Regions from separate parts of the Homo sapiens genome. Here region 1 is linked to region 2. Evidence: fine-mapped expression QTL. A gene starts in region 2. The other region holds a variant in brackets. All regions are shown on one strand. Distances are from middle to middle.

Region 1 (16,473 bases), 21 kb after region 2:
ACGGCTTCCTGGAGGGGATCCTAGAACAGAAAAGGACATTAGGCAAAAACTAAGGGAGTCTGAATAAAGTGTGAACTTTAGTTAATAATAATAATGTATTGGTTCATTAATTGTGACAAATGTACCATGCTAACATAAGATGTTAATAATAGGGAAAAGTGGGTGTGGGAATATGAAAGCTCTTTGTATTATTGCCATAATTTTTATGTAGGTCTAAGACGATTCTAAAATTAAAATGTTTATTTTTAAAACTTTGCATAAGACAGGTCTGCATTACACCTTAGCCTGTTAACCCAGGGTGTCTCCAGGAAGTAGACGGGGTGGGGGTGGGGAGCTGCCACTTCGAGCCCCTACTGTGTGCAGGGTTAGGGGCTGGAGAGATTGAGGAGAATGAAAGGCACACGCTTGCCCTCACAGCGTTTAGAGTCCAGCAGGGAAGGGCTTTTGATACTTCTATAATATTTGAATTTTTCTCCCACGGACATGACCTACTTTCAAAATCTGATTTTTTATGAAAAAAAAAAAGGTACAACATAAAGCTAAATACAAGTGAGAAAGAGCAGATTCTCCTTATAAATGTTAACGTGGATTGGGTGTGGTAGCTCACACCTGTAATCCCAGCACTTTAGGAGGCGGAGGTGCGAGGATTGCTTGACCCCAGGAGTTTGAGACCAGCCTGGGCAACTTAGGGAGACCTCATCTCTACAGAAATAAAAAATTAGCCAGGCATGGTGGCACACGTCTATAATCCCAGCTACTCAGTAGGCTGAGGAGGTGGGAAGATGGCTTGAGCCCAGGAGTCTGAGGCTGCAGTGAGCCACGATCAAGCCACTGCACTATAGCCTGGGTGACAGAGTGAGACCGTGTCAGAAGGAAAGGGAAGGAAAGGAAAAGTAAAGGGAATGGAGGGGAGGGGAGGGGTGGGGAGGGAAGCACAGGGCCCCCAAAAATTAAAAAAAAAAAAAAAATTAGCAGATTTCCTTGGACACACTGCTACCTATTCTTGGACTATGGTTTTTAAATTTCTTTTTAGGTCTAGACTAGAGTTCTGTCAGTTGAGAATGATGTTTCCCAAACTTACTTAAACTTGACCACAGAATACATTAAAAATAATACAATCTTGACAGAACAACAGCAGATATGCATATGCTCTAATGCAAACTTGTATTAAAGAAGGCCAGGAAAAGGGCCACCTAGATGAATTTCCTTAAGGAAAAAAGTTCAGTCAAAACATCTTTTATCTCACACGTTCTTATAAAACTTTTAAAATGAGTTTTTAAATCTATTTTGTGTCTTTTATATATTTCTTAAATATTTTCTATCTTTTAGAAATCACTTATCTCCATGTTGGAAACAGCATCATTGTGGCTAAGAGGTGTATGAAGCACAGCTTTGGATCTACGCTTTCAGTGCAGTGTGTTGGGAAAAGTCCACTTTGCCCAGATACACTGCAGCCAAGGGACGGAGGATGAGAGCTGCATGCTGTGTGATATTTGTGCCCTCTTAAATTAGGCTACTTCAAATGCTGTTCATGGTTTCATTTTGGGCAATTTACAACTAGATTTTTTTTTCCTTTTAGAAAGTTCAAGCTCAATTGCTCATCTCTACTTTAAAGTATTCTATATTTGCATTTGATTCAGATATCATCTAGCAAGTGAAGACACTTCTTTTCATCTAAAGCTTTCTTATTTTAGCCGTAGATCTAAGGAGAACAAGTTAGTGCCATATATTTGTTTAGTGCTCAGTATGCATTTTGCAGTATCACAGATACTAAAACACATGCTAAAATTATGTGACAAGGTACATATACATTAGAATTGCATTTGGCTGCATGTAACAGGGATCTGACACCAATGGCTTAACTAAATAGGGGTGTTTGTTTTCCTATGATAAACAATTTGGAGATGAGCAATCCAGGGCGGATGCAGTAACTCTATGATGTCATCAATGACCCCAGCTTCATCTGGATCCCTGGGTGACTATTCTTAGCATGTGGCTTTTGTCCTCATGGTCACCAGCTGTCTACTGCACATCCAGGTGTCAAGTCTGCATCTCAAGCAGGAGGAAGGAGGACAAGGATAAGAGGCAAAATGTGCCTTTCTCATCCACCAGAAAAACAACATTTCTCTGAAAGCCAACTTAGTAGACATCCCCTTACATCTCACTGACCTAAATGCTGTTACGTGACCACTACTAGCTGCAAAGGAGCTGAGAAAAAGCAAGTCCTGTAGCTGGTCCCATGGGTACCTTGAACAAAATCATGGTTCTATTGTAAAGGAAGGCAGAGAGAGTGAATGCTGTGTAGGTGCCTCTCAGGGCCTGCTGCCATCAGCTTACAAGGCATTTGGTAAACACTGCTCCGTCCTTGGCGTACAGAGCAAACGTCCTGCGGGGATTGTTCCAGCTCTTTCTGGTATAGGCAGACTACTACGTAATTAAAATAATATTTTTCACATATGTGCTATTCTAGAATAAATTTTGGTAGGAAAAAATAGCATTGGCATCTGTTATTTTCATGGAACATGTATTAAATTTCTTCAGAGTACAGATTAGGAAACTCCAACCTAAGTCATAGAAATAACCTATTCCAAATGACAGCTGTATTTTATATTAAGAAAACCCAAAACTGGCCGGGTGCAGTGGCTCACGCCTGTAATCCCAGCACTTTGGGAGGCTGAGGCGGGCGGATCACGAGGTCAGGAGGTCGAGACCATCCTGGCTAACACGGTGAAACCCCGTCTCTACTAAAAATACAAAAAAAAAAAAACAAAAATTAGCTGGGCGTGGTGGCAGGCGCCTGTAGTTCCAGCTATTTGGGAGGCTGAGGCAGGAGAATGGCGTGAACCCAGGAGGCGGAGCTTGCAGTGAGCCGAGATCGCGCCACTGTACTTCAGCCAAAACTTACTTAAAGATTTCTTTAAATAATCTCTTAAATTTAAAAATCTAATTTAACTTTAAATTTTAAAATCTATTTATAGGCCGTATGCAGTGGCTCAACGCCTGCAATCCCAGAACTTTGGGAGGCCGAGGCAGGTGGATCACTTGAGGTGAGGAGTTTGAGATGCCTGGCCAACATGGTGAAACCCCCTCTCTACTAAAAATACAAAAATTAGCTGGGCGTGGTGGTATGGTGTGCGGCTGTAGACCCAGCTACTGAGGAGGCTGAGGCAGGAGAATCACTTGATCCCAGGAGGCAGAGGTTGCAGTGAGCCGAGATGGCATCACTGCACTCCAGCCTGGGTGACAGAGCGAGTCTCCATCTCAAAAAAAAAAAAAGAAAAAGAAAAACCTATTTATATATCTCAGTACCAAACCTGTTGTATCCTACTTAGGGCCACTAATTTTCATTTCCAAATTCCAAATGGATAAGTAGTAACAAATTGTACATTTTCTGGATAACTCTTCTGAAAACAAAAATGATAATTTATTCACCTGAATCTTTTTAGTATCTGCCTCACTGTTTTGGCATTCTCATATGGTTTCAACAGTGTGTGATTTGACCTGAGAACAAAAATGGCATGTTGGAATGTATTTCTTTACCTCAGTACTGACTTAGGTTTACAGATGAAGGCCTCTTCCTGCCACCATCAGTTTTTAGTCTATCTGTCTATACTCATCTACATCTGGAGTGAAATTAATCCTCTTTCCTGCACTCAATCCTAAATGATATTTTTTTTTAAGAGAAAGTATCTCACTGTGCACAGGCCAGGCTGGAGAGCAGTGATGAGATCATAACTCACTGCAGCTTTGAACCTGGGCTCAAGCAATCTCTCCCCCAACCTCAGCCTCCCAAGTTGCTAGGGATATAGGCAAGCATCGCCATGCCTGGCTAATTAAAAAAATTTTTTTAAGACAGGGGTCTTGCTATGTTGCCCAGGCTGGTCTTGAACTCCTGGCCTCATGCAATCCTCCTGCCTCAGCCTCCCAAAGTGTTGGGATTATAGGCATGAGCCACCATGCCCAGCTGACTTCATTTTTAAATGTAAAAAATAATGCCTGTTACTTACCAAGATAATACAAGCTTATTATAAAAAAATAAAAACATCACAAACATTTATGTCTCAACTAGCACAAGTTCCTTCTCATAATAATTATTAACATTATTTATATTCTTGCAGAATTTTCAATGCATATATATATGTGATATATAAAAATGTATACATAAAAGACATCGTTGGCTGTCTGTATAACATCTACCTTTGTTCTTTTCTAAACAACCCCATCTTGTTCAGGAAATCCAAGCTAATTCCTGTGCCAAAGGCTGGCTTAAGAGAGGGCCCACAATGCAATTCTGGCCTGTCTTCCTCTGCTGGATGTCACCTTATTTGAACTGGACACTTAGAACCATGACAGCCATCTGTGTCTATGAGGGAGTGAGCCAGAGAACCAAGCTGACATGTTGAATATGGACTTCTTTAAGGGCATGATGGCAAACATCCTCATTGTGTAAGTCGAATAAGCCAGGGTTTTCTGTGTTTTGCACCTGAAAAAACCTTAATTGATAGACTATATTTGTCACCATTATAGAAGTGAAATGTCATTGTCTAGGTTGATCAGTTTGTCCCTGTTTGCATGGGGCTTTTCAAGTCTCAAAACTAGAGTCCCATATCCCAGGAACCCCGTTAGTCCCTAGAAAACCTGGACTACCTGTTGCCCCTACATTATAGATACTTCTGCAACTTTTATTTCACATGTATCTTGCATGTCTTTCCATATTAATATATAAAGACCCATATTGTTACTTTGGGGCTTTCTAGAATTCCTTTGGATGGATCATTTTGTGTCAGGAATTGGTGGGTTCTTGGTCTACTGACTTCAAGAATGAAGCCGCGGACCCTCGTGGTGAGTGTTATAGCTCTTAAGGTGGCGCCTCTGGAGTTTGTTCCTTCTGATGTTTGGATGTGTTCGGAGTTTCTTCCTTCTGGTGGGTTCGTAGTCTCGCTGGCTCAGGAGCGAAGCTGCAGACCTTCGCGGTGAGTGTTACAGCTCCTAAGGCGGCGCCTCTGGAGTTGCTGTTCCTCCCGATGGGCTCGTGGTCTCGCTGGCTTCAGGAGTGAAGCTGCAGACCTTCGCGGTGAGTGTTACAGCTCATAAAAGCAGTGTGGACCCAAAGAGTGAGCAGTAGCAAGATTTATTGCAAAGAGCGAAAGAACAAAGCTTCCACAGTGTGGAAGGGGACCCGAGCGGGTTGCCACTGCTGGTTCCGGCAGCCTGCTTTTATTCTCTTATCTGGCCCCACCGACATCCTGCTGATTGGTAGAGCCGAGTGGTCTGTTTTGACAGGGTGCTGATTGGTGTGTTTACAATCCCTGAGCTAGACACAAAGGTTCTCCACGTCCCCACCAGATTAGCTAGATACAGAGTGTAGACACAAAGGTTCTCCAAGGCCCACCAGAGTAGCTAGATACAGAGTGTCTATTGGTGCACTCACAAACCCTGAGCTAGACACAGGGTGCTGATTGGTGTATTTACAAACCTTGAGCTAGAGACAGAGTGCCGATTGGTGTATTTACAATCCCTGAGCTAGACATAAAGGCCCCACCAGACTCAGGAGCCCAGCTGGCTTCACCCAGTGGATCCCACTCTGGGGCTGCAGGTGGAGCTGCCTGCCATTCCCGTGCCATGCGCCCGCACTCCTCAGCCCTTGGGTGGTCGATGGGACTGGGCGCCGTGGAGCGGGGGGCGGCGCTCACTGGGGAGGCTGGGGCTGCACAGGAGCCCATGGAGTGGGTGGAAGGCTCAGGCATGGCGGGCTGCAGGTCCCGAGCCCTGCCCCGCGGGAAGGCAGCTAATGCCCAGCGAGAAATCGAGCGCAGCGCACGTGGGCTGGCACTGCTGGGGGACCCAGTACACCCTCTGCAGCCGCTGGCCCGGGTGCTAAGCCCCTCATTGCCCGGCGCCGGCAGGGCTGGCCGGCTGCTCCGAGTGCAGGGCCGGCCAAGCCCACGCCCACCCGTATCTCCAGCTGGCCCGCAAGCGCAGCCCGCAGCCGCGGTTCCCGCTCGCGCCTCTCCCTCCACAACTCTCTTCAAGCTGAGGGAGTGGGCTCCGGCCTTGGCCAGCCCAGAAAGGGGCTCCCACAGTGCAACGGTGGGCTGAAGGGCTCCTCAAGTGCCGCCAAAGTGGGAGCCCAGGCAGAGGAGGCACCAAGAGCAAGCGAGGGCTGTGAGGACTGCCAGCACGCTGTCACCTCTCAATTTCACTAACATACTTTTTTTTTTTGAGATGGAGTCTCACTCTGTTGCCCAGCCTGGAGTGCAGTGGTGTGGTCTCGGCTCACTGCAACCTCCACCTCCCGGGTTCAAGCAATTCTCCTGTCTCAGCCTCCTGAGTAGCTGGGACTACAGGCGCCCACCACCACGTCCGGCTAATTTTTGTATTTTTAGTAGAAACGGGGTTTCATTATATTGGTCAGGCTGGTCTCCAACTCTTGACCTCAGGTGATCCACCTGCCTCGGCCTCCCAAAGTGCTGGGATTACAGACGTGAGCCACTGTGCCCAGCCTCATTGATACACTTTTAAATTAAACTGACCTATTCGTTTTGTTAGCAATATTGTTCCCTGTTGGTTTTAAAAGAAGAGTTACTATAAGCACTCAGATCTCAACTCTTTTTTCTCTTTGTAGTCAATATTTTATAATAAAGTGATCTCTGAGTAGGCAGAAGAATACATAAAATAAACAAAGCCCTCAGAGGCTCTGTCTCGTGTTTTAACATGCAGTGTCCTCCTCAGCCTCCCTTGGCAGAGCTGTTCTGTGCCTTCCCTCCACCTTAGTTCCAGCCATCACTTTCTCTTTCATTTGTCCTATCCTCAGGGACTTTGGGTTTGAAGGAAGAATTTGCGGATGCCACACCGGATACAGGGTATCCAATCCTGCATCTCACTCCAAACAAATGTTTTCAGTCTTTTAAACCTGAAATAAATTTGCTGGGATCTAGGTCTTCCCTAATTTTGAAGCATCAGGTATCAGAACACACCAATTTTCTGGGTAATGATTGGTTTTAGAACATTTTGTTCTGTGTCAGAAAATTTTCAGAATTACCCTTGAGAGAAAACTTTGTTTTGGCAAGTTGAATAATGTATCAGTTAGGATCATTTTTACCATAAGAAATAGAAAACCCATTGCAGGTTGGCTTAAGATAAGAATTTTTACTGCCTCTCATTACAAGAAGTCTGGGGGTAAAGGTAGTCCCGGGCTTAGCTCAGAAGTTCAGTGATACTATCAGGGACCTTGGTTCTCCCGATCTTTCCGCTCTGCCATGTTCAGTGATTGGCTCTTGGTTATAACACGGCTGCAGCATCACATACTCATAGAATGGCATCCCTACATAGAAAAAGGAACTGTGCCTATCATCTGTTCCCTTTTGAAAGTGAGGAAACTCTCCCCCCAAATCCTCTTGCAGACTTCCCTCATATCTCATTTGCTCCACTCACATCCAAGTGTTTGTCCAAACCATCACTCAGAAATCCAGGAATGAGACAGCTGTGATAGGCTCAAGCCAATCAAGAACCACCCTCTGCCTCACTTAAGGAACATCAGAACATGGCGCCTGGGAGGAGGGGAACAAAACCAAGTGGCTGGGAGGGAAGTGCCAGGTGAGAGTGAGGTTGGGGCTGTTGGATAAGCAACCAGTAGTTTTTGCCAATGGGACCGCTCCCCAAACTTTACTGGGTTATATAATTGCAAACTCTCTCAAGTCGTGTTTCAGTTATATTATGGCTTATGGTCTTCATTTAAATGGGATAACTAGGAGGGTTTTTTGGTTTTTTTTTTGCCTTGACTGTTGATTCTTTAAAGGAAATCCATGCTAATTAGCAGCAGCAGCTGTCCAAGCCTCGGTTTCCTTAT[A/C]TATAAAAGGAGCTTAGCAAACCTATACTCTGAAGGTTCTGAGAGGATTGGAATGATACACAAAAGCTCTTAGGACAGTTCCTGACACTTGATGAGCATCGTGTAAATATTTGTTATGCGAAGTTTTGATACAAGTCCAAAATAAATGATCTGGTTTCCTAACTTGCACCATTCCGATAAAAGTAGCAAATTACTGTATAATGGTTTACGGGTATCTCATTGTTTTAAAGTTCATTCTGAAAGATGGCCAGCAAATACACCTCATGGAAATCAAAACGATTTCACAGACCCCTAAAAGAATGAGTGCAGCTAGGCTCTAACGCAGGTTGAATTACTGTTCCCTTCCACTTTGCTTCACTGTATTTTCCTTTTCTTAAAGAAAGTTCTTTGTAGAGACAAGGCCTCCCTATGTTGCCCAGGATGGTCTTGAACCCCTGGGTTCAAGTGATACTCCTGCCCTGGCCTCCCAGAGTCCTGGGGTTACGGGCATGACCCATCGTGCCTGGCCTGCTTCACAGTATTTTCTAGTTGTTTTTTATTAATACACTTTAAGATGCTTATCATAAAAAGGGGACTATGGTAGGCTGCATGGTAGTCCCCCAAATATGTTTGAGTCCTAATCCCAAGAACCTGTGACTATGTTAGCTCATATGACAAATGGGAATGAAGGCTGTGGATGAAACTAGGTTGCTAGACAGCTCACCTTAAAAGGGGGAGCATAGCCCGGGTCATCCAGGTGAGGTCAGTGCAATCACAAGGGCCTTAAATGAGGAAGAAGGAGGCGGAAGAGTGAGTGTCGGAGCGATGTGACGGGAGGAAGACTTCACTGGTCACTGCTGGCTTTGAAGCTGGAAAGGGGCCACAGGCCAAGAAGTGTGGGCACCTCCAGGAGCTGCAAAAGATAAGCAGATGGATTCTTTTCTAGAGCCTCCAGAGGGAACACAGCCCTGCCCACACCTTGATTTTAGCTCAGTGAGACCTGTTTTGGACTTCTGACCTCTAAAACTGTAAGATAATAAATTTGTGTTGTTTTAAGCCTGTAAGTTTAGTGTTAGTTTTTTACAGCAGCAATAGAAAATGAATGTAGGGAAAGAATGTAATTTCAACTCAGGCAGAAATGACATTTAAGAACCCCAAATACCCTTTTGTGTCAAACCTTGCCAAACAAAAAGGTAAATACTGAACAGCTGAAACACTTGTCACACTGCTGTGATTATGGGGGTGGGATTGGAATCAAACCTCCCTCTGCATCAGGATGCAGGGTCTGTTGTGGTCCTGAAAATACATCTACAATGAAAAGGCATAAATAGGATGTCATGATTTTATTGAAATATGGCCACACGATGGGGTAAAAGCCAGGGATATTGACCAGTTTGCTTAAAAGAAGCAGAAAATATTAACTGGTGCATATCAGCAAAGGAGGAAACAGTAAAACGGTATGCAAAAACAAAGGAAAGAATGTCTGAACAAATGGTATTTTGGAGCCATTTAGTTTCAGGGAAAATAGGCTTACATTCTTGCCTGCTGTATTTATGGCATGGACATTCAAAGTGATGATGCATCCACATCAAAAAGGAGCTGAAGAGGTTTCTTTTCTTTTTTCGAGATGGAATTTCGCTCTCGTTGCCCAGGCTAGAGTGCAGTGGCGCAATCTCGGCTCACTGCAACCTCTGCCTCCTGGGTTCAAGCAATTCTTCTGTCTCAGTCTCCTGAGTAGCTGGGATTACAGGCGCTCGCCACTGCACCTGGCTAATTTTTGGTATTTTTAGTAGAGACGGTGTTTCACCATGTTGGCCAGGCTGGTCTCGAACTCCTGATCTCAGGTGATCTGCCCGCCTCAGCCCCCCAAAGTTCTGGGTTTCTTATGGTATACTTAAGATGGCAAGAGAATAGGCAAGACATTCCCAAAATGATATAAGTTTGTTTTTAAGCTTTAGGGCTTTAAAAGGAGTAAACCTCAGTTTTCCAAATTACGTCTCACATCACATCCCCCCTCCAAGTAGGAGACAAAGGATGCTTGCTAGGGTTGGGCTCGTGATCTCACACATCAGTGGGTTCAGTCTAGTTTGGGGTTGAGGCTTAGTCAAGTTCTGGCTTCCGTCCCTGTGTTCTGTGTTCTGTGGGCCTTCCAGACACTTGTGTGGCTGCCTGGCCCAGGTCAATGGAGTCTGTCCAGTGGTAGGGGACTCAGTGCAGGAAGAGAGAGAAAGCCTCATATTTTGTTCCTGTCATCTAATGTGTTACCATTAGTAATTCAGGCTTTTCTGGTAATGGGATGTAATTCCAAGCAGAGTGTTATGGTGACCAGGCCTTATATTTCTTTACTTAGCAGTTGTAAATGTCAATGGGATTTTTAGCTGATAGGTATGTTTGTTTGTTTGTGACAGGATCTCACCCTGTCACAAACTGGAGTGCAGTGGCGAGATCTTGGTTCACTGCAACCTCCGCTCCCAGGTTCAAGCAATCCTCCCACCTCAGCCTCCCTGAGTAGCTGGGACTACAGGCACGTGCCACCATGCCTGGCTAATTTTTGTATTTTTTGGTAGAGATGGGGTTTCACCATGTTGGCCAGGCTGGTCTTGAACTTCTGACCTCGAGTGATCTGCCTGCCTCAGCCTCCCAAAGTGCTGGGATTACAGGTGTGAGCCACCATGCCTGGCCTAGCTAATAGGTTTCTATATTCCATTATTGATGTTTTGGTTCTTAGCTCCTCTGAGGAATCTCTATGAAACCATCTTTTAAATTGTTTCAACTCTTATCCACTTATTATTAGTAATAATATAAGATGATTTGGATAAAGGTTCATCTTAACCTATTTGTTGTTACTTAATTATCTTATCACATTCCTTATTGCATGTTGACAGCAAACCCTTAGCCACTTTTAAAATATGTCCCACATATCAAAGCTAATAATAATAATGACTACCTTACACTGGGGCCTTACACTGGTGCCTACCATGTGCAAGGCACCATGTTTTATATGGCTTAATTTCCCCAGCAATTTTATGGGATAGACACCTTTAAGATCACTCTATATGTGAGAAGAAAACTGAATCTTGGAGAGAATCATTAGCTTGTGAAAATCACAAAGCTAGTAGATGTCAGAGCCAGGATTTAAATCTAGCCCATCTGACTCCAGATACAAACTCTTAACCACTCCTGCTAATGTGCAGAACTTATCTGGGAGCTTATGAACACCTGCAAACTAAAGTGGATGGGGCAAATCCATTCCTACCACCATCTAGTGGAGGCTTCTAGAGCCAGACAGAATTGTGTCTCCCTCTGTCCCTGTTCCCTCTTCTGCTCTGAGTCTGCTTCCCTGGCCAGTGGCTGCTGCCTAGGGCCTGCTGATCACCACCTGCATCTTGGGGACTCAACTGTTAATAATTGCCGGGAACTGAGCTGTAGCATGTCAGTCCAGGAGCTGGTGACTTAGCAAGTCACCTTACCTCCAGCAAAGTCCCCTAGGTCACAAGACCAGGCTTTCCGAGAGGCGGGAACCTGGGTGTCACTAGGGCAGAGTAAAACGGATGGGGTAGCTGCACACATGCCCTTTCTACTGCCAGGCCCTTACCCCTTGAGTCAGCAGCTCTTCCTCCCAGGAATGTCTGTAATTAAGGTCAATGGGAAACTACAACAATCCAATCCAAACAGGACTACAAATGGCCCAGACCCTTCAGGAATGAAAGTTTGGGTCAGTCCACAAGGTAAAAATCCACAACCCACTGAGGTGCTTGCTGAAGGCAAAGGGAATACAGAGTGGGTAGTAGAAGAAGGTAGTTATCAATACCAGCTACGACCACGTGACCAGTTGCAGAAACGAGAACTGTAATTGTCATGAGTATTTCCTCCTTATTGTGTTAAGAACGTGTTTGTGCATGTATACACTTGTACTAAGAAAATATCTTCATTTTATTTCCTTTCTTTTTCCTTTATCATGTGACATGAAATTTATTGACTTCACACCTGCATTTAAGTGTTGTTAACTTTATGTAATAGCATTTAAGGATTAGTGTGTTTCCAGTTGTAAAAGAATAGCTGTATTACGTTAGACATAATTATGACCGTATTATTGTCTTTATTTGGAGGATAAGTATGATTTCAGGAGGTGTTTATGGGTTCAAGTTGACAAAGGGTGGACTCATGATGGTTAATATTAAGTGTCAACTTGATTGGATTGAAGGATGTAAAGTATTGTTTCTGGGTGTACCTGAGTGTTTCTGAGTGTTGCCAGAGGAGATTAACATTTGAGACAGTGGACAGGGAGAAGAAGACTCACCCTCAGTGTGGGTGGTATCATCCAATAGGCTTTCAGCACGGCTAGAAAAAGCAGGCAGAAAGCATATTAATCTTAAATTTCATATATGCTTTTATGGTGTTGATACTACTTATGATGCCTAAATGTACAATCGTGTACATTTGTGCAAAAATGTACAAAAACTGGCAAGCTTTCAAGAAAATGACATTCAGTACTATGTCTGGTGATGTCAGAATTTTATATTTGTAAATATATTACAAATATATCAAAAAAAAAAAAAAGAAAGAAAAGAAGAAGCAGGCAGCAGAAGGTGGAAGGAGCTAACCTGCCTAGTCTTCCGGCCTTCATCTTTTCTCATGCTGGGTGCTTCCTGCCTTCGAACATCAGACTCCACGATTTTTGGCTTTTGGACTCTTGGACTTAGACCAGTGGTTTGCCAGGGGCTCTCAGGTCTTAGGCCACAGACTGAAGTCTGCACCGTCACCTTCCCAACTTTTGAGGTTTTGGGACTCAGACTGAGCCACTGCTGGCTTCCTTGCTCCTCAGCTTACAGATGGCCTATTGTGGGACTTCACTTTGTGATCATGTGAGTCAATTCTCCTTAACAAACTCCTTTTCTTTCTTTCTTTCTTTTTTTTTTTTTTTTGAGATGGAGTTTCACTCTTGTTGCCGAGGCTGGAGCGCAGTGGCACTATCTTGGCTCACTGCAACCTCTGCCTTCTGGTTTCAAGCGATTCTCCTGCCTCAGCCTCCTGAGTAGCTGGGATTACAGGTGCCTGCCACCACACCCGGCTAATTTTTCTATTTTTAGTAGAGATGGGGTTTCACCATGTTGGCCAGGCTGGTCTCAAACTCCTGACCTCGTGATCTACCCGCCTCAGCCTCCCGAAGTGCTGGGATTACAGGTGTGAGCCATTGCGCCTGGCCCAACAAACTCCTTTTTATATCTAGATATATCCCATTAGTTCTGTCCTTCTAGAGAACCCTGACTAATACACTTCCTCATGATCCATAATTTGTACCTTACCTTCTGGGGCTTTCGGGGACTTGAGTCTAGTTATAAATCTAGGAAAGAGAGAGGTGGTGGGGATGGGTTCTGCAGAGGATTATTACAGGATCTTTAGACAAAGGGGAACCAGTCCTCTCAGATGATGGAAGGGTTGCTTCTATTAGCAAAGAAGATTCAGCAGAACTTGGGGTTCAAGTTCCCAGCTTTACTGGAATCTCCCCGTATATCCCCTTCCAGTTCTCAGGGCCCCTCTCCTTCCCAATCAGTACCCTTACTTTAACAAAAGAGGTACTACATGGCTGCAAATTCAATTTGCCTTGTAATTCAGCCACCCACAAAATTAGACTTTGGATTTAGTTTCCCTGTGGCTATAGGAGATTAGGGTTTCTTTAAGTAGTCATTGGAGCTTCCAGATTCTTAATGTGAGCCTTGAGCTGGAAATTTGAAGTCCCGAGCTCATCATTTTCTTTCCTTATGTTCTCCAGCCCAATGAGAAGCATGTCCTCCTTATTTTCATTAAAAGGAACTACAGCCTCAAATGCTTAGTAACCTAGAGCCTAGCTTTCTATAAAACTTGATTACAGGTCTCTAAATGTAATAATTTTACATTACTGTCTTGTCATTGCAGGCCATAAAGTATCAGTGCCCTCTTTACCTCTGGAAATAGGCTCATTAATGCCTGTAAATCTAATCAGATCAGAAAATCAATTCTAGATAAGCCAGAACGAATTCAAAGAAATCATCCTAAGATTCTGCTCCTCTGGAACTACTCTGAGTACTGGATTTTTTTTTAAAGTGCCACAATTGACCTTTCAGTGAGAGAATTCTCCCAGTTGAGTTTAAATTCACAGAGAGCAGGCTCCAGACACCCACCACAGACTGAGTGTCCTCTGGCAAGGCTGATCCAAGACGGCCTTCACTTTGTTTATCCTCCTTCCCTCAGAACATCTTGTTTCTCCTGTAGGCTTTGACAAAATAGTTGAGTCTAAATTCTATAAATACAGGGTACTGAGAAGATGGTTTTGCCTGGGAACATTTTTTAAAGCCCAAAGTGTTAATAGGTGGTGTTGTAATTATCTCCTGTGTCCTATTAATTTCTGAGGTCCTGAAAGAACCACACTTATTCTTAGGAGAGATGTCTGATCTTGAAGTTACTGAAGAACCCCCAATTTTATCCAGGTATCGAGGACCTCTCTGAAGGACTCTGAGCAGAATTTAACATTCAGGAGTGATTTCTTTAAATTTTAATTTTATTTAAGAAATTTGGCTCTTCCTATTCTCCATGATGGTGCAGGATCAAGGTGAAAAGAAGATCCCCACTTGGGAACTTCACATCCACAAACTCGCCTCAATATCTGTGTGGGGAGGGTAGAGACAGACTGACCTGAGCAGCTCACAGGCCAGACCCCTGTGTTTTCCAAAGCCAAGTACAGCATCAGATCCTTCAGCATCAGGAGAAATGAAGAGATTGCCGTCCACTGCACACTCTGAGGGGCCAAGGCAGAAACAATCCTGGAGAAAGGTCTAAAGGTACAGGAATATGAGTTAAGAAAAGAAAAAAATAATCCCTCAGATACTAGAAACTTTGGTTTTGGGATCCAGAAACACACCGATATAGGTATCAAATATGACTCAAGCACTGGTATCTATGACCTGGACTTCAATGTGGTGCTGGACAGGTGAGGTTTTAGCATCGCAGACAAGAAGTGTGGGACAGACTGCACTGGGGACAAACAGAGTCAGCAAAGAGGAGGCCATGTGCTGGTTCCAGTGGAAGTGTGATAGGATTATTCTTCCTGGTAAAAAAGTTCCCGTTTCTACCCAAAAGGCCAATACAAAGTTTTCAGTGGGGAAGCAGGGGGAAAGGAAAAGAAACATAAAGTGTAATTCATAGGGCAAGATATATATATATATATATGTGTGTGTGTGTGTCTGTGTGTGTATATAATTTTCAGGCAAGGTCTCACTCTCACCCAGGCTGGAGTGCAGTGATGCAATCTTGGCTCACTGCAACCTCAGCCTCCTGGGCTCAAGTGATCCTTCCACCTCAGCCTCCTGAGTAGCTGGGACTACAGTCACACACCACCACGCCTGGCTAATTTTTTTTGTATTTTTTTTTTGGATGGGGTTTTGCCATGTTACCCAGGCTGGTCTCGAACTCCTGGGCTCAAGTGATCCACCCGCCTCGGTCTCCCAAAGTGCTGAGATTATAGGCGTGAGCCACCATGCCGGGCTGATAATTTTATTTTGGACTCTAGTTCCCATTAAACATTAACTTAAAAATTTTGGACTTTGGGTTCATTGGACTGAATTTAAAAAGTTAATTTTTAGGACTTTAATTTTCCTTGGGCATTTGATAGCAGCAAGGATGTTTATATTCAAATTTGGGCCCTCTCTATTTGTTAGAATTTTATTATTGGAGCATCTTTTTGTTGTCATTTAATTCATTGCAGAACCAATGATGGGCAGCATTAGATAGTGCGGCTGGATGTAATTTTAGATGAAAAACAGAATAAGCTTTGGTACAACTTGACCTTAGAACATGTGGCAAATTGTATTTTATGAAATTGGCCTTCGGTGAAATAAGCCAGACACAAAAGGACAAGCACTGTATGATTTCACTTTTATGAGGTACCTAGAATAGCGAAACTCCTAGAGACAAAAAGTAGAGTGGGGTTGCCAGGGGCTGGAGCCGGGGGGAATAGGGAGTTACTGCTGCATGGGTACAGAGTTCAACTTGGGCAGGTGAAATTCTGGAGAGAGAGAGAGAGAGAGAGAGAGAGAGAGAGAGAGTGGTGATGGTGCACAGCAATGCAAATGTACTAACTGCTACTGCAGTGTGCATGTAGAAATAGTTAAAATGGTAACTTTCATGAAGATTTCACCACAATTTTAAAAAGGAAAACAATAGCCACAACAATATTTCCAGTCCCACATGCTCTTCCAAAACCTTGCCACTCTCCCATTAGGAGTAAGAGTCTCTGTTCCTAATAGAGGACAGCAGCAGTGATGCTGTGTGGATTCTGAGACCCAGTCATGAAAGACGACGTGGCTCCTGCCTGGTTCTCTCTTCATTTCAACATGGACCTTTGGAGCCCTGAGCCAAGCTGAAGCCACCCTGCAGGAAGACCATGTGGGATGGTTACATAGCGATAGAGAGAGCTGCCCAAGGAGCCCCGCTGTGTGAGTCTTCCTGGTTCACGTGCCAGGCGTGCGAGTGAGGAAGGCATCACACTGACTGCAGCCCTGGCCGCTGACAGAGAGACCCCAAGTGAGAACTGCCTGCCGAGCCCAGTCAACCCCACAGCTGTGAGAGACAATAATCATAGATTCTTTTTCTGACACTAAATTTGGTGT
Region 2 (13,731 bases):
TCAATCCCTTCAATTTATAGCGGAGGTCAACTGGAGATCATAAGCATGTAAGGCAGGGGAAAAAGAAACCGGAATGTCAGTGAGAATCTGTGGGGACTTCTGTCCCATTTCAGAATGGAAGGCTCTTCTGTGTTTAGTTTTGACTTCTCTCCCTTTCCAAATTTTCCATAGTGTGACTCTATTAATTAGTAGTCTAAAACATAGTCAGTTACTGTTCACTTCTCCTCCAGATGCCATGTGGTTCCCAATACACCTAGAGACTACATTAGCTTCAAGTCATCTTGAGTTCCCCTAAACATTCCTCTTCTTCCCATCTACCCTCATTTATTTCAGGTTACGGAAAGAGGGCCATCCCCATTAGCTCAGGTGAACTGGAAAACCCAATCACTCTATTTATAACAAGAGCACAGGTGTATTGGGCCAGCACTGTTCTAACAGCTTTAGAACCCAGAAGAGCTTTAGAGCTCTTAGACACAACCCAGCTAACCCTCAGAACAATCCTGCGAGGTGGGTACCATCATGATTCCCATAATAAAGATGAGGAAACCAAGGAATGGAAAAGTTATGGACATGTCCCACAACCAGTAAGCATTGTTAGGGACCAAGAAGTTCCACAATGACTAGTTTCCTGATAACCTGTTTCTGTCTCTTTGGTGCCCAACCATTTCATTTTGGATAAAAACCCACAAGTCAACCACTTAGGTCACACATGGTTCTGAAAGTCCTATACTGTTCTGGATTCCCAGGCACAGAACTCCGGGCTGCTCAGGAAGAGACTATGATTCTTCCACCTGCCAGCTACTATTGGCCATCCCTTCTCATTGCTTCTAGCTCCAGCCTTCTCATCCCAATTCTCTATTCTACATTGTTATTTCTAACCCATTGTGTGCTGGGAAATCAAACCACTCAGCAATGACATTCTGAATTTTAAAAAAACATATACACATGTAATGAATACCTACTAGCTTCATCTCTTTCTGACTTGTAGTTCCAGCTTTAAAAACCAAATTAGAAATCATGACAGAGAGACCCTGGGGGATTTGGGGGCACTTTACCATCAGGAAAGGGCATGGACTTTAGCACAAAGCCTCAGCAGCAGCTATGCTGACTCATCAGAGGCCTTTCCCACTCTTCCAGGTGTTTAAGTTCTGAGCAGCTACCTCGAGAGGGCCTGCTGGATAACTGAGGCGTTTACTGGCAGAGTCTCATTTCATTCACGTGCCCCTAGGAAGAAAGGAATGGGGCACTGCCTTTCCAAAGAAGATGCCCAGAGTCACATGAAATCCACATCCGTGAAGTTTCCTTGAAGGAAGCAATTTTTTAATTTTGATGTCAGAGACTCTCCAGACTCAGGAAGCATTTCCGGGTGGCTTGGGACTTAGTTTCCTTTCACAAGCTGCTTCAGCCTGAGACCAAACCTCAGCGGTGCACACATACTTTCCTTCACTTGAGGAGCTCAGCCTCCACGCTGGCTGGAGGAAAGGAGCATTTGTCTTTACCCAGTCATATGCCTACCTGGTTCCTCTCTGGGCCCAGAGAAAGCATTTCTGAGATAGCCACACTAGACTAGGCAGGTGACATTACTAAGGCATGTTGACTTGGAGGAAGAGGGATTAGGAGAAAGAGAGAGAACCCTGCACTGTGGGGTAGGAGACCCACAGTCCTTCTAATCTCTTCTTTATAAGCCACTCCATGACCTTGAGCAAATCGCTTAATCTCTGTCTCAGTTTTGTCAGTCATAAAATGGGATATACCACCTGCCCTACCTTTATCCGTGAGCTGCTGGATTAGATGAAGTTGGCTGTTGGAAGAATTATGAAGCAATACCTATCCCCAGCAAGCCACAACAAAGCCTCTCTTAGCCCTCCATGCAGGTGCAGCCCAAGTCATTGAAAAGTTGCACCCACACTACTAAGCTATGACGCTGGGTCACCATCCATGTCAGAAGCAGGAGGTGAAGGGGCTTGGGTCTAAAACTAGAAAACCATGATCAGGAAACAAGAAGTCCCTTCAGGAGGTAATGAGGTACCCCCTACCACCACTGCCCCCTCTTCTGGAGTTAAAAGATCCTATTGAGGCTCCCGGTGCGGGACCATAGCAGGACAGAGCTGAACATCCATTCTCCCTCCCTGGGCCACAGATCCCTGCAAAGAATAATCCTTTAACCCCATTATTGCCTTTCCTCCCTGAGAGAGCTGACCGACCTCCTACAGGTAATAGGCTAAAGGTGCTCTCAACCTCAGGAGACTTCTTTTCAGCACTCACCTAAAAGTTAGTTTCCAAACTTAAAAAGTGTCTGGACTCCAAATATCAAGCTGCCAGTCACAGAACAAAGGCTGTGATCTAGACCAGCCTGGGCAGCATAGTGAAACCCCATCTCTAAAAAAATTTAAAACAGTTAGCTGGGGCCAGGCAGGGTGGCTCACACCTGTAATCCCAGCACTTTGGGAGGCCGAGGCGGGTGGCTCACGAGGTCAGGAGATCAAGACCATCCTGGCTAACATGGTGAAACCCCGTCTCTACTAAAAAATACAAAAAATTAGCCGGGCGTGGTGGCACGCGCCTGTAATCCCAGCTACTCGGGAGGCTGAGGCAGGAGAATGGCGTGAACCCAGGAGGCGGAGCTTGCAGTGAGCCGAGATCGCACACTGCACTCCAGCCTGGGTGACAGAGCGAGACTCCGTCTCAAAAAACAAACAAACAAACAAACAAAAAGCTGGGTGTGGTGGTGTGCACCTGTAATCTCAGCTACTCTGGAGACTGAGGCAGGAGGATCGCTGAAGCCTAGGAGTTCGGGGATGCAGTGAGCTAGGATCCCAACACTGCACTCCAGTCTGGGCAAAAGAGCAAGACCCAGACTTTAAAAAAAAAAAAAAAAAAAAAAAGCTGTGATCCCCTTAAAAGTCCTAATAGGCCACCACTATCTGCCCTTTTGGCAAGAACTTTTGGTCTCCCTCATGAGTGGTTTTTTTTTGTTGTTGTTTGTTTGTTTTTAAATACGGATGTCCTAGATTTTTGTTGTTTTAAGTGAACAATCTCTCTCTTAAGTGCAGACAGCCATCACATTTTCCAGAAGGAGAAATGGAAACAGTTGGAAAGGCAAGTCACTTTGCCCAGGGTTTGCTGTTTTTCACAACCTCAGCAATGAGGAGCTTTGCCTCAATAACTCAAGACAAAATATATTAATAACTCCAAGGCTCAGAATCCAAAATCATCAGAAATCTGGAGAAGGAGCCAGCTGGACTCCTCACTCAACTGAACCTGGTTAGATCAGTAAATGCCTCCGGGCTGCAGTTTCCCCATTTGTGAACTTTGGGCTAATGGAGAAACCAGGAGAGACCAAGGTTTTGGATAAGTCACAGAAAGGATACTACATCATCTCAAAGGATGAAATGCAACTTCTAAGAATTGCAAAAAGCAGGCAAAACTAAGTGAAGATGCTTCTCTCCCTCCCCTCTAGAACTCACACTTTCGCACAAAGAAAGGCCTTTGAAACACAGCACTCTGCCGTGGTCTTTACTGGGGTGGACAGCAACCTGTCCCAAGCCCCAAGCCCTCAGGAGAGGCATATTTCTGGGCAATATGTCTCACTCAACTAACCCCAGCCCTATTATCCGTGGGTCCACTGATAACTGCAGAAAATTGCCAGCTTCCTTCGCAGCCAAGGACTGTAACAGAGAAGGCCATAGATTGCAAGCCGGATGACCCAAGAGGCAAAACTTAACCAATGCTCCCAGAAGCTTTTAGGCACCATGTGGGAGAAAATGAGGCGAAGCCACTGGGGCGTGGTCGGAACATTTTTACCGGGGAGAGCAGCGCGAGAGTATAAGGAGTAAAGAACAGGCGGGGCGGCTGGCTCTTCCCTAACAAACGCCCACCTAACGGTGGGGACTGGTTCTTGCTCAAAGATGCGGCCCTGCTCTTTCGATTGTGCGGTGCGCCCCAGCTGTTTGCAAAGGTGTGGTCAGCACGCAAAAACTCCAGACGTCATTTTGATATTTTTAAAACGTTAAACGCCACCAGCAGCCAGCTAAGAATTAACTCTTAGGAGTGTATAAGCATATGGGTGTATGAACTGGAGGGCATCCGAGAACTGGCGTCTCCCACTGGGCCCTGGGAGAGGTGGAGAGTGTTACCTGGCCAGGTCGAGGAAAGAGTCCACCGTCTCTTTGGGGACAGGAGGAGGCCCCGAGTCCTCCAGCCCCAGGTCGCTGGACTGAAGGGTCTGCGCACCGGATCCTGGCTTGATGATGAACGCCAAGGCCACGGCGAGCGCCGAGGCACTCAGTGTGGTGAGGCCAAAGTAGGCGACAGCGATGCCGCCCAGACGCCCGAGGCAGCTGGCATCGAGCGAGGCGGCGCCCGACACCAGGCTGCAGACCACCAGCGGCAGGATGATCATGCGCAGCATGCGGAGCAGCATCTCGCCGGGGAAGGCCAGGTAGGTGACCTGCGTGCGGCTCAGGCTGAGCCCGCGCAACGCCGCGCCCAGGCCCGCGCCCGCCAGCACCCCGGACACGGTGAGCAGCACCAGCGCTTGGCGCCGCAGGAAGCCCGCGCAACGCCGTGCGCGTCCCGCCGCGGTCCCCGGAGCTCCGGGCCCGGCCGCAGGCCCCGCCTGAGCGCTGTCAAGGTAGCCGTTGGTCTCGTTGCTCTTCTCCATGGCGCTACACGCCGCTCCGAGCTAGAGGTGGCAGGGGACGTGGGCTCTGGCAAAAGACGGGGTTCCCAATGAATGGGTCGGTCGGCCAGTTGTGCTCCGCAGGTTCTGGGAAGCCGCCCCGGGGGTCTCCGGGCCTGGCGCAGGAGCAGGTGCGAGAAAGGCGAGGAGAGGCGCAGAGTGCGGGTTGGAGCCGCGGGCGGAGAGGATCGCGCCCAGCCTCCCTGGAGCAGCCGCCGGCTGGAGATGATGCAAACGGGAGCCGCGAACGCGGACGCAGACGGGGAAGTAGGAGGGCGCGCCAGCGGCCCCAGCCCGCTCACTTCACGCCCGCCGTCCCGCCCCCTGTGGCGCTGGCCAATCACAGCCCGGGAGCCGCCGCCGGGAGCCGCCGCCGGGAGCCTCTGGTCCCCACCCGTGTCGCGGGTGCCGCAGGGGGCGGCCGGGCGGGAGGCTCCACCCGAGGCCGCGGGGGCGCGGGCGGCGCCGGCCAATCCTGGCGCCAATAGCCGCCTACCCGCCCGGCTAACGGAGGCCGGCTCCGGGCGACCGCGGGGAAGTGCGGGCTGAAGGACCGCCCGGGCTCCTTGGCACCTGCCGGGCCCTCTCCCGCGGCCGGGATCTGAGTCCTCGGGGCCAGAGGGCCCGGGAGAACTTAGAACGCAGCGGCGTTCCTCCTCCTGAGGACTGTGGGAGGGGAGGGAGGGGAGGGGAGAAGAGAGGAGGAGAGGGGAGGATCCCTCTCTCCCGGGTGGCGCTTTCGCCCCGCGCGGCCCGCGCTCCTCTCCAGAGCTCGCCGGCCTCTCCCGCCAGGGGGCCGGGCGCGGTGAGGGGGCCCGGGGCGGTCCTGCCGTCGCGTCCCCTCCTGCGGAAGATCCCTTCTTCCAGGGGTCCTCAGGGGCTTGTGCGGTAAAGCACGCCATGGTGCCCAGCAAGGCCCCGGCCTTGAGACAAAGGACGGACCGGAGGATGGATGAATAAGGGGAGCCTTCGCACGCGCTCATTAGGGCTCTAACGCAGCCATACCGCTAGAGAAAGGGGGCTCGCTGTGCCACCAAACCCGGCGCCCCTGGGCCGCGGAACCGCGCGCACCGGGGCGCTCCTGGGCTTGTGTCCTGGGGCCATCAGGATGGGGCTGGGTCGCCCGCCAGGCAGCTGTCTGCGGTATGGGCGTTTAAGACGCAAAGCTCTTCTAGAAGAAACAGAGCTCTCACGCCACCACTTCCAGTTGGTTTCTGCCACGTAACCAAAGCTGAAACACAAGCCACTGGATTTTAACCTCTTCCGTTCCCAGGCCTGAGCCCTGGCGAGAAAACAGCGCAGACGGCGGTTTGGCCATCCTGAACGGTTCCTTATTGTTCACGTTCTATGGATTTCCTGTTTATTTCATCTTTTATTTGATATCTGCTTTGGCCACGCGAGTTACAAGGGAAACTTCTGCTGAGTCTTTTTACTGTATCACAGTTATTATATTTTTATATTTTTTTATTCTGCTTGTGAATTGTTCTTTAAAGACTTCCGTGGGTGGTCTTTTGTTTTTTCTTTTTCCTTCCTTCCTTCCTTCCTTCCTTCCTTCCTTCCTTCCTTCCTTCCTCCCCCCCTCCCTCCCTCCCTCCCTTCCTTCCTTCTTTCCTTCTTTCCCTTTCTTTCCTTTCTTTCCTCTCTTTCTGGGACAAGGTCTCGCTATGTTGCCCAGGCTGGTCTCCCAGTTCCTGGGCTTATGGGATCCTCCTTGGTAGCTGGCACCACCCACTGTGCCAGGCAAGGGAAGACTTAATTGTGGCTAACCTCAATTAAGGAGGAAGGCAATTTACTATAGATTTCTTGCTATAAAGGAGTCATCTTAAAACATGTCATGACATATTTGTGCAAATCAAAATGCCTTCATAAGGAACTTTAAGGAGCTGTCCAAATTTTGAGACAGTGAGTATTTTATTGCTTGGAGCCAGCCAGCTATTGGCTAGAACTTGTAAGGATTGTGTGTGGGGGGGGGGGGGGTGGGCGGGGGAGGTAGTGTCAGATGAAGAGCTGCACATATTTATATCTGGCTTTCCAGAATGCAGTTCATTTCTCTATGTGCACTGAAGAAAGAGTAATTCCTACAGACACACACTGTGTTTTGCCAATCAGCCCTTCCCTTTGTTTTGACTACCACGTTTATGCAAAAGACTCTCAAATCATGCTCCAGAAATGAGTCTTCGGCTGCCTGTTTTACATCTTCACCTGAATATCCTGCAGGCGTCCCAACTAAAATGTTCAAAACCAAACTCATGGTTGCCTTCCTCAAACCTGCTCATCCCTTCGGTTAAAACATAATTGATGACCCAGTCACCTCTGTGTGAAACTTCAAAGCGAACTTTGATTCTTCCCTCTGTGGTGCCTTCTCTCATCTAATGAATTGCCAAGTCCCACAGAGATTCCTTTCACAATATTTATCACATCTGCCCATCCCATCTATTCCCACTGCTACCACACTGGCTCAGTTCTTATTTCCTCACTTCTTATCTGGGCTATTGAAATGTTCTCCCAATTAGTCTTCCCACCTCCAATGCTCCTCTTGTTCCAACCATCCTGTATTTTGCCTTGCCCCAGGCTAATCTTCCTAATGAGTAATATACATGTTAGGATAAAGTTCAGCTTTCACCCAGCAGAAAAGAAAGAGCAATGAGGGCATGGCATCTCTCTTTAAAAACACTTCCTAAAAGTCATACACATTATTTCTCTTATATTTCATCGATAAGAATTTAGTCAAATGACCATTCTTTTCTGCAAGAAACGTTAGGGAATGTAATTTTTGTTTTACACAGGCATCCACCCAGTTAAAAAATTGGAGTTTCTGTTACTAAGGAAACACAGAAAAATGATATTGGAGGACAACTCCTTCATATCACTTCTTGTTCAAAAGCTTTCAGTGGCTCCCAGTGAATTAAGAATGTGTTCCTCATCCTGGCATTCGAGACCTACCATGATCTGGCCTCAGCCTGCTCTCTAGCCATGTGCCCTCTATGCCTCCTGCAAAAATGGCGCTGTGTGCTCCTTCCACATTGTTTTGCCTCTCCATCCAGTCCCAGTTCAGATACCACATTCCTCCCATAGCCTTTCTGAATCCTCTTTGCACCAACTCTGCTTGCTGCTTGCAGCTTTTTATGCTGTACCTGTGCACTCCAAAGCTGCAATAACAGTCAGTCAACCCTCAATTGGGAGTGGGGAACTCCCTGAACTACTAGACATCGTGTGGTGCTGAGTGTGAGAGCACTGTTTGGGGGTGCCTTATACTATGCCACATATATCTGTCATTGAATTAGCGAAAGGGTCTCTTGGGGCCTTTTATCTCCAGAGGGCTGCCCTGTAGCCATTCTGCCTACTTGTGAGGCAAACCAAGAAATAGGTGTCCTCTTCTGGCCTCCGTGACATTTGGTGGTATTACTATATCTCTCTATGAAAGGGTTCACTTTCTGCCACCTTTTTCCCTCTTTCTTCCTCTCCTTTTGCATTTTTTGGTCTTTTGATAATTTTACATGCCTCCTGTTTGTAGGTATTTTGTGCAAAAAAAAAGTTGATTCCTGTGTTAGACACCTTCCCCCACAGTACTTATATGTGTTTTCCCTGATTTCTGGATGCGTAAGTACTGAATTATAGCAACGCCTTACAAGTGATCCAGCCTGACAGCATTACCGCTACTGTCATCTGATCCCGTGATAGGCTAAAGTATTGTTCAGCCAAAATTTATTCCCTTGTTTCTTCCACTTAGATAGGAGTTTACCTTCCCCATTGCCTTTGAGCTTTGCCATTTAGCTCCTTGGCTAGTGGACTAAGTGGATGTGATGCAAGCGGAGGCATCAAAATGTTTTCACACAATCGCATGTGGACTCCTGCATACGTGTGACCCAGCATGCCTTGGGTAGATGCTGCCCTTTCAGCCTGGCACCAGAACAAAGACAGGAGTGTGCCTGAATTTAGCCTGCAGCCCTGATCAAACCCAGCTGCCTCACAGCCTAAAGAAGAACACCCCAGTCAACCCACAGACCCATGCGTGAGAAAAATAAATGCTTATTGAAACCCACTGAGTTCCGGAGTCATGTGTTATACTGCGTTATTGTAGCAATAACTGAGTAATACAAATGCTCACTTCAGCATCTGTTCCAGTTATCTGTTGCTGCATAACAAACCAGCCTAAACCACGCTGGCATAAAACAACAACCATCTCAAAAAGGAGTGGCATAAAACAACCACCAATTTTTTTATGCTCATGATTTTATAGGCCAGAAATTCAGACAGGGCATAACAGGAGGTCTCATTTCTGTTTCACAATGACTGAAACCCCAAGCTGGGGTGGCTTAATGGCTAGAGATGGCTAGGACAGCTCACTTGGGGTCCTTTGCCTGAGGCCTAGGTTCTGGCTATCTATTAGGATCCTCGTTTCTTTCCCACATTGCATCTATTGAGTCTGGAATGTCCAAGATGCCTCTTTCATTCACACGACTGGCACCTTGGCTAGTGGGTTTGGATCTGCTGGGGCTAGCTGGGCATCTGTTGCTCTCTCAGTGTGGCTAGCTTGGGTTTCCTCACAGTATGGCAATCTTGGTGAAGTCAAATCTCTTATGTAGTGATTGATTTCCCCCAAAGTGAGTGTCTTAAGAAATGTAGGTAGAAGCTGCAAGACTTCTTCTGACCTAACCTCAGAAGTCCCAGAACATTACTTCTTTCTCATTCTGTCAGTCAAGCAAATCATTAAGGCCAGCCCAAATTCAAAGGAGGAGAATTAGATCCCATCACTCCATGGTGGGAATAATCAAGAATTTGCAGCCATCTTCAATCCACAGTAACATTACTGCTTAAATACTCGTGTTTTGTGGGCCAGCGCAGCACACATAAGTCACTACTTGCCCTAGCTCTGGTGTTTCTTTAGACAACTCTACTAGAAATTTGCTTTGGACAGTCTCTCAATAAATGGTGCTGGGAAAACTGGATATCCATATGCAGAAGAATGCAATTAAACCCTCATCTCACACCATATACGAAAATCAACTCAAAATGGATTAAAAACTTAAATTTAAGACCTGAAACTGTTAAACTACTAGAAGAAAATATGAGAAATATGAGAAAAGCATCATGGCATTGGTATGGGAAATGATATTTTAAAAATATGACCCCAAAGCACAGGCAACAAAAGGGGAAACAGACAAATGGGATTATGTCACACTAAAAAGCTCTGCAGAGCAAAGGAAACAATCAACAGAAGGAAGAGACAACCTACAGAGTGGGAGAGTATATTTGCAAACCAGACATCTGATAAGCGGTTAATATCCAAAATATATAAGGAACTCAAACAATTCAACAGAAAGAAAACAAATAACCCGATTAAAAAATGGGCAAAGGACTTGAATAGACATATCTCAAAAGAAGGCATACAAATGGCCAATAAGTCTATAAAAAATGTTCAACATCACTAATTATCAGGGAAATGCAAATTAAAACCACAATGAGATATCACCTGACAGGTATCAGAGTGGCCATTAACAAAAAGAAGAAAGATAACAAATGTTATAGAGGATGTGGAGAAAGGAGAACACTTGCACACTGTTGGTGGGAATGTAAATTAGTATAGCCATTATGGACAACAGTATGGAAGTTCCTCAAAAAATTAGCAATGAAAACAGCAATCCCTGGATGTATATCCAAAGGATATGAAATCAGTATGTTGAAGAGATATCTGCACTCCCATGTTCATTGCTGCACTATTCACAGTAGTTGAGATATGGAAACAACCTGTCTATCAAAGGATGAATGGATAAAGAGAATGTGGTACATAAACACAATGGAATACTATTCAGCCTTTAAAAAGAAGGAAATCCTGTCATTTGCAACCACATGGATCAATCTGAAGGATATTTTGTTAAGGTAGGCACAGAAAGAGAAACCATATGATCTCATTTATATGTGGAATTTATTATACAAAAGTAGAACTCACTGATACAGAAAGTAGAAAGGTAGTTACTAGAGGCTGGTGATTGGGGGGATTGGAGATATGTTGGTCAAAGGAAACAAAATTTCAATTAGATAGGAGGAATAAGTTCAAGAGATCTATTGTACATGATGGTGACTGTAGATAATAACAATATATTGTATACTTGCAAGTTGCTAAGAGAGTAGTTTTAAAGAGTTCTTACCACAAAAAATAAGTATTTGCAGAAATGTGTATGTTAAATAGTTTAGGCATTCCACAATGTATACATATATCAAAACATCATGTTTTACACCATAAATACATACAATTTTTTATAAAATAAAAGAAAGTTATTTTGTCATGATTTAGTCATGTTCTTAAAACCAGGACTGCATCATCCATCATGAAGGAGACTCAGTTTCCCTCATTAAAGAATGGCTATAGATTTTTTACTTACAGAGTGATAACAATAGTTTTATTCCTTTCTTGTCAAAGTGACTGCCACTCCCAATATACTTATGTATCCATGAATAGTGTATTGTACTCACACGCCGGCTTCTGCTAGCAAAGAGGTTGTCTCAGCTCTATCTTCACATCTGATGACCTTTACATATTTTTCACATTATTTCACTAGATTCACCAGGAACATCACCAAAATCATGGAGCAGGAGTTATTTTTCTGCCATGAATGGACTGAAAAAAGAAAATTTTGTCCTTCATCACAGGCAAATTTGGATTTTGGAGTACTTTTTACTTTTCCTAAGAGATACCAGATAGTTGAAGTAACAATTATATTAAAAAGGTTAAATGCCAGTTTAGTTCTTTCCATATCAGCAAAACACAACTTTGTAGGAAGTACGATGTGATTTTTTTTTTAAAAAAAGATTATTTGCTCTCCAAATAGATCTGACTACTTAGCAAACAGAGCAAGCAAAGACAAAATCTAAAGTAATAAATGAATTCTTTTTCTCCTGTGGTGAATAACTTAGTGTACAGTGGCATACTGGCATCAAAGTACTGATGACTTTGTAATCAGTAATCCTTTTTCTAGGCTCCCCTCAGTATCATCCCTACAAACCAAAAAGAAAAAAAGAGAAAAAAGGGGCCATAGAAATGCCCCTAGAACCAAAAGGTCAGGTGCAGACTCAGATAAACAATTTGAGTCAATAGTAAAAAAGGAATTTGGTCAGAATGGGAGTAAAAGTCAGAATGAAACTGAAGTAAAGTGTCTGTCTCCATGGTTTTAGAGACTAGCTAAAGACATAATAACTGACATTTTCTTTGTAGAAGGGTCTGGTGAAATAAGAGCACCGAAGAAGACAAGTTAGAAGATGGGAACACCAGTTAGGTTGGTGTCTGGGTTTTGTGGGTGGCAGTTCTAAGGCTAGGGATTTAATTCAACAACACAATGAGATGTTTATGTAGTTTCCCACTAAGAATAAATCACTCTGCACGGCTCATAGAATGAATACAAAACTGGGGAGTAAGAATTACTAGAGCAGCTGATAAAATGCATATTCCTGAGCCTGGAGCAGGGCCTTGGAACCTGCATTTCAACAAGCCAATCCCTCCCCCACCATATTATTCAATTAAGAATAATTTATAAGGGCATTGAATTAACAGAGTTCGGCATTAAAGAACAAAATAAGATCTAGAGTTAGGCCTTTAAAGCCTGCCAATCAAGTCCTTCCAACTAAGTGCAATGCTATAAGGTGAGAAGCTGGTGGAATTAGAGGAGAGGGGGATTGGATAGGGTGGAGAAGAAATGGGTATCAGTTAGTATGAGTTATAGTTCTCACAAGAATTTATTGTGCTTGGTGTAAGAATTCACTGGAGTGGACTAAAGTCTATTTGGGAAAAAAGATATGGACTCCTGAAAAAGGTAACTCGTCTTACAAGTAGAGCTCAGAGCTCAGGGTTAACTTTCATCAGAGTCACCTAGAAAGAATTTGAAAAGGCCAGATTCCAGGGCTCTACCCTGGAAATTTTGTTTCTGTAGCTCTGGGATAGGACCCAAACATCTACATATATTTTATTCTTCCAGTTAATAAATTAATGAGATATAACAACAAAATGCAATGGAATCTAGATGAAAAGAAAAGTACAATATTGAGGGAATTAAGGAAAATCTTGTGTGGACTATATGTTGAACTTCATGTTGAGTTCTTTTAAGGGGTGACAATGGTGTTCTGGATATTAAGACAATAGCCTCGTTCTTGACAGACCATGAAGGAATATTTAGGGATGAAGTGTCATGGCGTCTGCACACAATTTTTGGGTGGCTTGGCAAACAGGAATTGTATACAAATATAAAGAGAATGATGCAGTGGGGGAGGTAAGATGTTAATACCTGGTAAAACTGGATGAGGATATATGGGTGTTGTTCTGTTCTTGAAACTTTTAAGTAGATTTAAATGTTTTCAAAATTATTATTATTATTATTTATTATTATTCTTTGAGATGGAGTCTCACTCTGTCACCCAGGCTAGAGTGCAGTAGTGCGATCTCAGCTCACCACAACCTCCACTTCCTGGGTTCAAGCTATTCTCCTGCCTCAGCCTCCGGAGTAGCTGGGACTACAGGCACGTACCACCACACCTGGCTAATTCTTGTATTTTTAGTAGAGACAGGATTTTACCATGTTGGTCAGGCTGGTTTCGAACTCCTGAACTCAGGTGATCCGCCCGTCTCGGCCTCCCAAAGTGCTGCTGGGATTACGGGCATGAGCCACCGCTCCCGGCCCAAAATTTTCAAAATTACAAAACATTGTTTTTACAGGAAAGAATAATGATAGAGCAAAAGACTCCACATTTGATTTTGTTCCACAGCAGAGTTGTGCAATTTTAGTAGAAAGGTAAGTATCACAGAAGCTCGGAGCAGTGAGACGTCACAGGGGCCCAGAACTGTGGTTCGCCATTCGTTTTCTCCAAGGGCACACATGACAAATGATGTTTACACACAGTGCCTACAGCCATAGGTGGACCTAGGTTTAGAGGTAATTCCTGGCTACCGGCCTGTAACACAACAGATTTTCTTTCCACTTAAGGAAGAATGTTGGCCTGCAAGTAAAGGATGTTATCACAGGGATAACTTTGAATTCACTCAAATTCATTTAAAAAATAAT

Direction of the effects. Positions count from the first base shown, and alleles are read on the strand shown. Sizes are in standard deviations (SD) of each study's normalised expression.
In carriers of allele A in region 1, the expression in adrenal gland of the gene that starts at base 4,908 in region 2 tends to be lower than with C alone (small effect, 0.21 SD a copy in GTEx).

What was found. PIP is the estimated chance that this variant, and not a neighbour inherited with it, causes the effect. A credible set is the group of variants that fine-mapping cannot tell apart.
Region 1: its variant is the best candidate, but not a certain one, in a credible set for the expression of SLC1A4 in adrenal gland (GTEx, PIP 0.71).

Annotation. Positions count from the first base shown.
Region 1 is chr2:64,958,545-64,975,017 of GRCh38, reverse strand. It overlaps the pseudogene RPL11P1. Among named protein-coding and RNA genes, the nearest start is that of SLC1A4, 23 kb to the left of the region's middle. The variant A/C (reference allele first, on the strand shown) is at 7,850.
Region 2 is chr2:64,980,576-64,994,306 of GRCh38, reverse strand. SLC1A4 (solute carrier family 1 member 4) reads right to left here and starts at 4,908. Exons shown (of 8, transcript NM_003038.5): 1 at 4,137-4,908. The coding sequence starts at 4,663. RefSeq lists silencers at 4,509-4,688, 4,899-5,598 and enhancers at 4,322-4,906, 8,442-8,511, 8,822-8,891.